Homo sapiens: one gene and its partners. The protein of the gene in region 2 purifies or fractionates together with the protein of the main gene of each other region. This does not show direct contact. Each region holds a gene or a part of one and is shown on either strand. Other genes may lie near its edges. The genes, in order: PLOD1, COL21A1 and COLGALT2.

Evidence for each region.
Region 1: the proteins of COL21A1 (region 2) and PLOD1 purify together in Homo sapiens (affinity purification with mass spectrometry; one large-scale study listed by BioGRID and IntAct). This does not show direct contact.
Region 3: the proteins of COL21A1 (region 2) and COLGALT2 purify together in Homo sapiens (affinity purification with mass spectrometry; one large-scale study listed by BioGRID and IntAct). This does not show direct contact.

The regions. Positions count from the first base shown.
Region 1 is NC_000001.11:11,941,146-11,944,799, reverse strand, and holds part of PLOD1 (procollagen-lysine,2-oxoglutarate 5-dioxygenase 1 isoform 2 precursor), read right to left. Parts: intron 279-3,654; coding exon of another isoform or gene 138-278; intron 1-137. UniProt on the Homo sapiens protein: Part of a complex composed of PLOD1, P3H3 and P3H4 that catalyzes hydroxylation of lysine residues in collagen alpha chains and is required for normal assembly and cross-linkling of collagen fibrils.
Region 2 is NC_000006.12:56,171,011-56,174,664, reverse strand, and holds part of COL21A1 (collagen alpha-1(XXI) chain isoform a precursor), read left to right. Parts: intron 1-3,536; coding exon 3,537-3,654.
Region 3 is NC_000001.11:183,971,695-183,975,348, forward strand, and holds part of COLGALT2 (procollagen galactosyltransferase 2), read right to left. Parts: intron 3,521-3,654; coding exon 3,403-3,520; intron 2,057-3,402; coding exon 1,922-2,056; intron 1-1,921. UniProt on the Homo sapiens protein: Beta-galactosyltransferase that transfers beta-galactose to hydroxylysine residues of collagen.

The DNA of each region.
Region 1 (3,654 bases), on a different chromosome or scaffold from region 2:
GCCGGGGCAGGGAGCTGGCCCCAGGGCAGAGGGCTGGCGCCAGGCGGCCCAGCAGGGATTGGCAGGGATTAGCTGCGGTGCTGGGGGAGGAGGGGGTGGATACACCAGGCAGGTGTGGGAAGGAGAGGCCTCACTACCTGAACCTGGGATCCAGAAACGAGGGATGCTGCTCACACTTGGGGAAGGGCTCCCCCGAGCTCCTGCCAGGACGGTGAAGTCTCTCCCCAGGTGAAGAGAACCAGAGCCACCAGCTCTGAGGCCCTCTTGGCAACAGGGGGCTGCTGGGGACAGGAAGAGTGTCACATTTCATGGATGGAAAAAGCCAGCGTGAGAGCATGTGAGTGAGTGTGTGTGTGTGTGTGTGTGTGTGTGTGTGTACGCGTGCATGCGCAATTCAGGATTCTTGATGGAACAGGCTCTTGAACTCCAGCAGCAGGGGTGGGGGAAGGGGATGGGGTGGCGTGGCTCAAAGCCCCTTTCTCAGGTTCCTGCTTCTCAATAACAGCAACAATAATGGCTTACCTTCATCGAGCATTTTCTGTGTGCCAGACACAATTTTTTTTTTTTGAGACAGAGTCTCGCTCTGTCACCCAGGCTGGAGTGCAGTGGCTAGATCTTGTCTCACTACAACCTCTATCTCCTGGGTTCAAGCGATTCTCATGCCTCAGCCTCCTAAATAGTTGGGATTACAGGTGCCGGCCACCACGCCCAGCTAATTTTTTGTATTTTTAGTAGAGATGGGGTTTCACCATGTTGGCCAGGCTGGTCGCAAACTCATGACCTCAGGTGATCTGCCTGCCTCAGCTTCCCAAAGTGCTGGATTACAGGCATGAGCCACCGTGCCCAGCCAATGCTGTTCCAAGCACTTCACACATACTAACCCCCGACTTTCCAGTTAGGAAACCAAGGGTACAGCTGGCGAGTAATGTGCCCAAGGGAGCTAGGAAGCAGCAGCACCAGGACTTGGACACAAGCCTGAACCCAGAGTCTCCTCTCTTAACCTAAATGCATGCACTGCCCAGCCAGGGACGGTGGCCAGGCCATCTGTTGAGAGGGCCCTGTCTCTCTATCTATGTAAGGGAGCTGTCTAGCTGTGCCCTCCCCACATGCCCACTTTCCTCCCTATAACCTGTCTATTCCCTGTTTTCCAGGGAAACAGTGCTGCTGAGAGCCCACACTGGGACCTTAACCCCCAGGTTCCGTGGCCAGGCGTGGTGACTCACGCCTGTAATCGCAGCACTTTGAGAGGCTGAGGCAGGTGGATCACCTGAGGTCAGGAGTTTGAGAGCAGCCTGGTCAACATGGTGAAACCCTGTCTCTACTAAGAATACAAAAATTAGCCGGGCGTGGTGGCACATGCCTGTAATCCCAACTACTCGTGAGGCTCAGGCAAGAGAATCGCTTGAACCCGGGAGGTGGCGGCTGCAGTGAGCAGAGACTGTGCCATTGCAGTCCGGCCTGGGCGACAAGAACAAAACTCTGTCTCAAAAAAAAAAAAAGAAAGAAAAAAAAAGCCGGGCACGGTGGCTCATGCCTATAATCCTAGCACTTTGGGAGGCCAAGGCAGGTGGATCATGAGATCAGGAGTTCAAGACCAGCCTGGCCAACATGGTGAAACCCCATCTTTACTAAAAATACAAAAATTAGCTAGGCATGGTGGTGGGCGGGAGCCTGTAATCCCAGCTACTCGGGAGGTGGAGGCAGAGAACTGCTTGAACCCAGGGGGCAGAGATTGCAGTGAGCCGAGATAATGCCACTGCACTCTAGCCTGGGTGACAGAGCAAGTCTCCATCTCAAAAACAAAAACAAAAAACAAAAAACCAAACAAACAAAAAAAACTCCCGGGTTCCTTGGGCCACGCAGAGCCTGCCTCTCTGGTTGAGGATCCCACGTGATTGTCCAGTTCAGAGGGTCCCAAACCTGCCCACACATCAGCATCACAAGAGAGGTTGTGGAATCCAGGCTCCTAGGCCCCAGGGCTAGGGGTCTGAGGTGGGCCCAGGAGTCTGGATTTTTCCTACCTTTCCCAGGTGATTTCTGATGTCAGCCACATTTGGGAATCACTGGTCCAATCCATCCCCTTGGTCCGCTGACACTGGGCTGCAATGCAGGGGTCTGGGAGGCGGTTCACAACAAGAGAACTGAAGGCAAGCCCTCCAACAAGAGACCCTGGCATGACCTCCTAACATCCCCAAGGAAACAGCCTCAGTAAACCCAGCCTGCACCCCATTCCCTTGACCTGTCTGCAACACACATTCCTTCCCCTAAAGAGGCCTCCAGTCTACCTCCTCCAGGAAGCCCTCCTTAATCTCATCCCATGTGGTCACTCCTTTGCACGTGCAGTCTTGGTTTGCCCAGTAGTTGACGTATTGGTACAAACCTGCTCCTTCTCCCTCTGCCAGGCCAGGGCCACATCTTTATTTCCTTGGTCTCCCTCTCCCTCACCATGGCTGGGACTGGGCATGACCAAGACACACTGTACATTCTGGCCTTAAGCAGCTACGTGAGGCCTGACACAGTGGCTCACACCTGTAATCCCAGCACTTTGGGAAGTGAGGGGAAGCTGAGGCAGGCAGATCAGTTGAGATCAGAAATTTGAGACCAGCCTGGCCAACATGGTGAAACCCCGTCTCTACTAAAAATACAAAAATTAGCTAGACGTGGTGGCAAGAGCCTGTAGTCCCAGCTACTCAGAAGGCTGAGGCACGAGAATTGCTTGAACCCAGGAGGCAGAGGTTGCAGTGAGCCAGGGTTGTGCCACTGTACTCCAGCCTGGGCAACAGGGTGAAACTCTGTCTCAAAAAAAAAAAAAAAGGCCGGGCACAGTGGCTCACACACCTGTAATCCCAGCACTTTGGGAGGCCAAGGTGGACAGATCACCTGAGGTCAGGAATTCAAGTCCCACCTGGCCAACATGGCAAAACCCCGTCTCTACTAAAAATACAAAAATTAGCCAGGCAGTGGTGCATATTACATACTGCAAGTTATACGGTGGTGCATGTAATCCCAGCTACTAGTCCGGGCGCGGTGGCTCACGCCTGTTATCCTAGCACTTTGAGAGGCCTAGGCGGGCGGATCACCTGAGGTCAGGAGTTTGAGACCAGCCTAACCAATGTGATGAAACCCCGTCTCTACTAAAAATACAAAAAAAATTTAGCTGGGCATGGTGGCAGGCGCCTATAATCCCTGCTATTCAGGAGGCTGAGATAGGAGAATTGCTTGACCCAGGAGGCAGAGGTTGCAATGAGCCCAGATTGTGCCATTGCACTCTAGCCTGGGCAACAAAAGTGAAACTCCATCTCAAAAATAATAATAATAATAATAATAATAATCCCAGCTACTTAGGAGACTAAGGCAGGAGAATCACTTGAAACCAGGAGGCAGAGGTTGCAGTGAGCCAAGATTGTGCCACTGCACCCCAGCCCGGGTGACAGAGTGAAACTCTGTCTCAAAAAAAAAAGCAGCAACATGGAAGGTACTTTTGTACTTTTGTGGTGCCACTGCACTCTAGCCTGGGTGACAGAGCAAGTCTCCCTCTCAAAAACAAAAAACAAAAAACAAAACAAACAAACAAAGTACTTTTAGGAACAGCTACCACCACTGAACCCGGTGAGATACCGTGTGCTGTATGAGGCATGTTACATTCATTATCTT
Region 2 (3,654 bases):
ACTGATTTAATTTCCTTTAATCTCTAGTTATAGGTATGTTCATATATTCTATTTATTCATGTTTCAGTTTTGGTAGGTTATATGTTCTAGGAATTTATTCATTTCTTCTAGGTTACCAATTTGTTGATATATAGTCGTTCATAGTGGTCACTTAAAATCCTTTTTATTTCTGTGGCATCAATTGTAATATCTCTTCTTTCACTTCCTGTTTTGAGTCTTCTCTGTTTTTACTTAATTTAGTTAAAGGTTTGTCAATTTTGTTGATTTTTCCAAAAAAGCAACTCTTAGCTTTGTTGACTTCTTTCCATTTTCTATTTTATTTATTACTGCTTAAATCTAAATTATTTTTTTCCTCCTGCTAACTTCGGGCTTAGTTTGTCTTTTTTTTCTGTAGGTCCTTGAGGTATAAAGTTGTTTATTTGATTATTTGATATCCTTTTTCTTTTTTAATGTAGGCATTTATTGCTATAAACTTCTCTCTTAGTACTGTTTTCCTGCATCTCATAAATTTTGGATGTTGTGATTTTGTCATCACGTATTTTCTAACTTTGTCTCTGATTTCTTCTTTGACCTGATGGCTATTCAAAAGTGTGCTATTTAATTTTTACATATTTGTGAATTTTTCAATTTTCCTCCTGTTGTTAATTTTTAGTTTTATTCCATTGTGGTTGGAAAATATACTGGTATGATTTCAGCCTTCTTAAATAAGACATGTTTTGTGATTTAACATGTGGTCTGTCCTGGAGAATGTTTCATGTGCAATTGAAGGGAATGTGTATTCTGCTGCTGTTTGGTGGAATATTCTGTATGCATCTGCTAGGTTCATTTGGTCTATAGTATTGTTCAAGTCTTCTATTTCCTTATTGATCTTCTGTTTGAATGTTCTAATCATTATTGAAATCCTCTACTATTATTGTGTTTCTTTCTATTTCTCCCTTCAGTTCTGTATATGTCTGCCTCGTATTTTTGTTATCATGATGTTGGCTGCATATATAATCATAATTATTATATCTTCCTGGTGAGTTGACCCTTTTATCATAGTAGGATATCTTTCTTTGTCTCTTGTTATAGTTTTGTACTGTGTGATATAAGTATAGACATCTCTGATGTCTTTTGGCTACCATTTGCATGGAATATCTTTTTTCATTTTTTCACTTACAGCCTATGTGTGTCCTTAAATTTAAAGTGAGTCCTTTTCATTTCTCTTTTCTTTTCCTTTCCCTTTTCCCTTTTCCCCCCTTCCCTTCCCTTTCTTTCCCTTCCTTCCCCTTCCCCTTCTCCTTTCCCTTTCCTTTGTCTCATTCTGTTGCGCAGGCTGGAGTGCAGTGGCATGATCATAGCTCACTGCAGCTTCAACCTCCCAGACTCAGTCAATCCTCCCACCTCAGCCTCCTGAGTAGCTGAGACTACAGGCACATGCCACCATGCATGGCTAATTTTGTTGTTTTTTGTTTGTTTGCTTTTGTTTTTGTTTTTGTAGAGATGGGGTTTTGCCATGTTGCCCAGGCTAGAGTCTTTCATAGATAGTATATAGCTGGATCTGTAGCTCTAAACCATTCAGTCTCTCTATGTACTTTGATTAAGGAGTATACTCACTTACATTTAAGGTAATTACTGATAGGGAAAAATTATTGTTGCCATTTTGGTAATTATTTTCTGTCTTTCCTGTAGCTTTTTGTCCCTCTTTTTTTCTTTTACTGTCTTCCTTTGTGTTTTATTGCTTTTTTTGTAGTGATGTCCTTTATCATTTTATTTATCTTCCGTAGGTATTTTCTTTGAGGTTATCATAGGGGTTACATGAAACATCATGTAATTATAACAACTTATTTTAAGTTGGTATGAAATTAAATTACATATAAATATTCTATATTTTTGCTACCTGTCCTTTGTTACTGATGCCACAAATTGCATCTTTTTATATTTTATATCTGTTAACATATTTTTAAAGTTACAGTTTTTAAAAATGCTTTTGTCTTTTAACTTTTACACCAGAATTAAAAGTCATTTATGCACACTGTTACAGTATTATAATATTGTGTGTCTGTCTATATATTTACTTTTATCTGAAAAATTTATACTATCTTATGCTTTTATGTTGCTGATTAGTATACTTCTGTTTGATCTTGAAGGACTCCTTGAGAATTTCTTATAAGGCAGGTCTGATGGTGATGAACTTTCTCAGCTTGTGTTTATCTAGAAAAGTCTTTATTTCTCCTTCATTTTTGAAGAACAGTTCTGCCAGACATAGCATTCTTGTTTGGCAGGTTTTTTCTTTCCTTTCAGCACTTTGAATATGTCATCCCACTCCTGGCCTGCAATGGTGCTATTGAGAAATCTGCTGATAGTCTTATCAAGGTTCCCTTGTACATAACAAGTCTCTTTTTTCTTGCTGCTTTCAAAATGTGATCTTTGCCTTTAACTTTTGACGATTAGATTACAATGTGTCTCAGTGTGGATTTCTTTGGGTTTAACTTAGCATATATTAGGCTTCTTGAATTCGAGTATCCATATCCTTTCCCAGATTTGGGAAGTTGTTGGCCTCATCTCTTTAAATAAGCTTTTTGTCCCCTTTTCACCCTCTTCTTTTTTTTTTTTCTGGAACTCGCAAAATGCATATATTGGTATGCTTGATGGTGTTGCTTAAATCTCTTAGGCTTTCTTCACTCTTTCTCTTCCTTTTTCTTTTTGTTTCTCTAACTGGATAATTTCAAATGACCAATTATTGAGTTTGCTGATTCTTTTCCCTCTGCTTGTTAAAGTCTGCTATTAATCATCTTTAGTAAATTTTTTCAGTCATTGTATACTTCAGCTAAAGTATATCATACTTATTACCTATATAGCTGACTATGTAATGCTAATGATTATTCTTAAGAAAATATTCTTTATAAGTATGATTAATATATAATTATAGATGAGATAATATGTCCGTCTGAAGAACTTTCATGAATAGATGGGACCCAGGTTAAGTTTTTTCCAGAGAGACAGACTAATGATATTTGAGCTATAGAAATATAAGCTGCTTGAACTGGAAAGAAAATCAAGAACAGAAAATACTTTTTACCCCTTAAATGCTAAGAATGCAAGAAAAGAATTTTAGTGTTCATTTTTGAATTAAATAAATTAAAAGCATTATCCAAAGTTGTATGACTAGTTAATAGGAAATCCTGGATGAGAATGATAAATCCTGTTCCATTGTTTTTCTTTTCCATAGGTGTTATATTGTCTCATATTGCTATTGTCTCAATTTTTTGCTAAAGACAATACATTAACAAATATTTATATTTTTGTTTTACTTTTATCCCTTATTTTTTAGAGAAAAAAGCATATTAAGATCTCACTCTTAAATGTGTAAAATACTTCTACATTTTCTCAGAAAATGTATTCATATACATTTATATACTATACATTTGTATACATATGTAGATTTTATAATTCTAATGATAGAATACTATATTGTCTAGTATTTCTCCCTTGATTTTTCTTTTATTGTTTGAATAGTCCATGATTAACCAACTTTTATTGCTTTTGCTTTATAGAATCTGTCTGTCCAACACGAATTCCAGTGGCAGCTCGTGATGAAAGGGGATTTGATATTCTTTTAGGTTTAGATGTAAATAAAAAGGTTAAGAAAAGAATACAGCTTTCACCAAAAAA
Region 3 (3,654 bases), on a different chromosome or scaffold from region 2:
GGAATGCTTCATCCAGTGGTGTACTGGACCACACATTGTTAAATTTTCAGAAAGTTTGCAAACCAGTTGACATGTTGATAGCTTGGAATCCATAAAAACAAAAATCACGTTAATCCCCACCACTCTAATGACACCTCATGTGGCAGTTTTACATGTTTTTAATAGCTGTATCATCAAGTGGCTATACTGCAGTTTACTTAACCTTTCCCTTAGCTTAACAACATTTAAGCTGTTTGCATGGTGGGAGTATTTAAACCATAAAAATTGGCAATGCTACCAACTAGGGTTTTTCCCACAAAGAGCCAGTTATTAAACATTTATCAGCACACTACTGACCTTATTTCTCATCCAAAACAAAACCAAATATAAAGGGGAGACTCAAACTTTAGCCCTTTGGCCATGAGAATACATTGAACATACTCCCTCTTTTTTTGAGACAGGGTCTCAGTTGCTTAGGCTGCAGTGCAGTGGTGTGATCATAGCTCACTGCAGCCTCAACTTCTTGGGCTCAAGCAATACTCCCTGCTCAGCCTCCCGAATAGATGGAACTATAGGTGTGCACGACACCACAACTGGTTAATTTTTTGATTTGTTGTAGAGATGTGGTTTCGCCATGTTGCTCATGTTGGTCTCAAACTCCTGGGTTCAAGTAATTGTCCTACCTCAGCTTCCCAAAGTGTTGAAATTACAGGCATGAGACACTGCTCCTGGCCAACATATTTTGCTTAGCACATTTTTATCCTACATTGATACATATTACATTAATCAGTTGAATTTATCTAATTCTTTAATTAAAGAATAAAAAATATAACCAGCCATGAGCATTCACTAAAACAGACCACTATTTTGAAGATTTTACTATGAAAAAAAGAAATAATAAAAAATCAAACCTTTTTTAACTTGAATTTTATAAAAATAACCTACCATGGTAGTTTTCATTATTAGAACTCTTTGGAAATAAATTTGGCAACATACATCGAAGGTCATTGAAATATTTGTACTTTTTTTTTTTTTTTCTTTTTTGAGAGGGAGTCTCGCTCTGTCACCCAGGCTGGAGCGCAGTGGCGCGACCTCGGCTCACTGCAAGCTCCGCCTCCCAAGTTCACGCCATTCTCCTGCCTCAGCCTTCCGAGTAGCTGGGACTATAGGCGCCCAACACCACGCCTGGCTAATTTTTTATATTTTTAGTAGAGATGAGGTTTCACCATGTTAGCCAGGATGGTCTCAATCTCCTGACCTTGTAATCCGCCCGCCTTGGCCTCCCAAAGTGCTGGGATCACAGGTGTGAGCCACCGCGCCTGGCATATTTGTACTGTTTGACTCAGTAATTCCACTTCTAAAAAGCTATCCTAAGGATATAATCTTAAATGCTGAAAAATTATATTAATCATGACGGTCACGATAGTTAAAAAGTTGTGAATAATTTAAATGTTTTTCAAACCGAGATAAAGGTTAAGTAAATTGGAACATAGCCACTTGATGATAACACAGTTACTAAAAACGTGCAAGTTTCTATCTATGATGTTGTTACGGTGATGGGGATTTAACATCTGTCTTGTTGGTTTTCTTTTAAACTTTTTTTAATTTCTAAGTTTTTCTATAGTGTTCTTATGTTAGTTTTGTAAGGACAAAAAGAATTAATTAAAAATAGTAATTCCTGAATCAGGAATTGGCTAATTTGACGTTTCTAAGGCTAAGCTCTTTAGACTATTTTTTTCATAATAAATTAACACAGAAGAGCCCAACTGGGTGTAGCATTGGACCCAGATTTACTGCCCTTCCTAAAAAATGCTTGCTCTGGGAACACAATGACACGCATGTTTCAAGGGAGTAAACAAGAGAAAGGTGAATGGGACTACTGTTGACCGGGTGTTGCCTTGTTAAAACTAGTAGCCTTAATTCATTTAAGCAAAAGACTTGCCTTAGGGGTGATTCCGCACCAGAAATTAGAATACAGGCCCCGAGACTCCAGCATGGGGGCCACAATAGTTTTGTTTTCTGCAATCAGTAGATTGAGGGTCTGTGGATTAGTCAGGAAATTGTCAACATCTATGAACTAGGAAAAGAAAAGGATAATGTTAGGTGAAAAGGTACTTTTCAGTAATGAGTTTGAGAATAACCCAGCCCTTCTGAAGGATCCCAGAAACTTGCTCATGACATATGGAACCAGCTATCTATGTCCTCCTTATTGAAACCCATTGCAGCTAGGTGGCTTTCATTCAGTCAAAATATATTTAGTCTAACTTTCGTATGTTGGGCTCTGCATAAGGCACTAAGCAGTAAATTGGTGCTGCCATACTGGGCATAGCCTCAACCAGGAACCAACCTACACTTTGGCTAGTGTTTTAGGCACAAGATATTAATGGCTCCCAAGCCATTAAAGGTTCATTCAAAAACACTTATTGGCTGCCCAGTCTAGGTACAGATGGGCATGCCTACTTAGCTTTTCTATAGTAATGCCAGAGTAGCTCAAAACAGATCTATCAATGAATTTTAATGTGACAAGTAGAATTTTTGTTTAAGTACATTATATCAACCCATGCTAACCAGTGAAGCTATTTCCTATTCTTAGAAGTCCATGTTAACAGTGATTTATTTAGAGACAGTATAACAACAGATTCTAATTTATAAAAGAAATAATCATACTGAACTATACACTGAAAAAGGGATAAACTGACAGATTTTACCTTTTGTAGGTTTTATCACAATAAAAAATTCAGAAGTCTTCATTTTTATGATAGTCCATCTGTTTACCCCAAATTTTGTGATTTAACATTTGTACACTTCAATGGCATTTAAACAGCTACACAATGTTAAATATTGTCAGTACAATTTGAAAACTTCTATGAAAGGATTTGTGTCACAAGTGTGCGTGATACATTTTTGGGCAGATTTTCACTGTGGTTGAGGGGATGGGGATGGACATAAATTCTCCAAAGAGAGCATCACTGTGCCAAGCAACAGATGCTACTCCCCAGATCATTCAGGAGCAAAAGGGAACCATTTCAGAGCTGTTCAGCTGAATCACTTTTTTAGATAATTACTTTTTCATATCCCCCAAATTCTTCCAAAAAGTTGTAAGAACAACTTACATTGCTTTACCTACAGCCTTTCCTGTGAGCTAAAAATATGCAGAGTTCTTATGCCTGTTGCATGGCAGAGACCAAATAATTCAGGCACTTCTTCACTTACCCACTGAAAATGCATGTGGGCCTGAAGATGAAGTCCAGGTAGCCCAATTTTAAACTACCAAAAATTTCATTGTGCCTTTCTTAAAAAGTGGGGGAGGCACTGCCTAATCAAAAAGGTTGTTTTGATTGCTTCCATGGTTCTAGTTTTTGGACGACTGATTTGGATACACCTGAGATGACAGTTGTCAAGAAATCAAACATCTGTTTTTACCAGAATGTAGTCTGACCATTTTTCCCTCGCAGTTCGAAGGGCTGCCTGTCGTAGTTTCATCACATGGGCAAACCGGGAGGTTGGCCAGTGCTTTGGTCCAATTTCATCAGGGTAAGACCTAAAATAATAATAATAGCTCATCATTATTGAGTGCCTACATGTACCAGGCTCTGTCCTAAATGTTTATATGTATTCATTTAATCTTCTATCAATCCCAGGAAGTAGATACTATTATTATTGTTATCATCATCC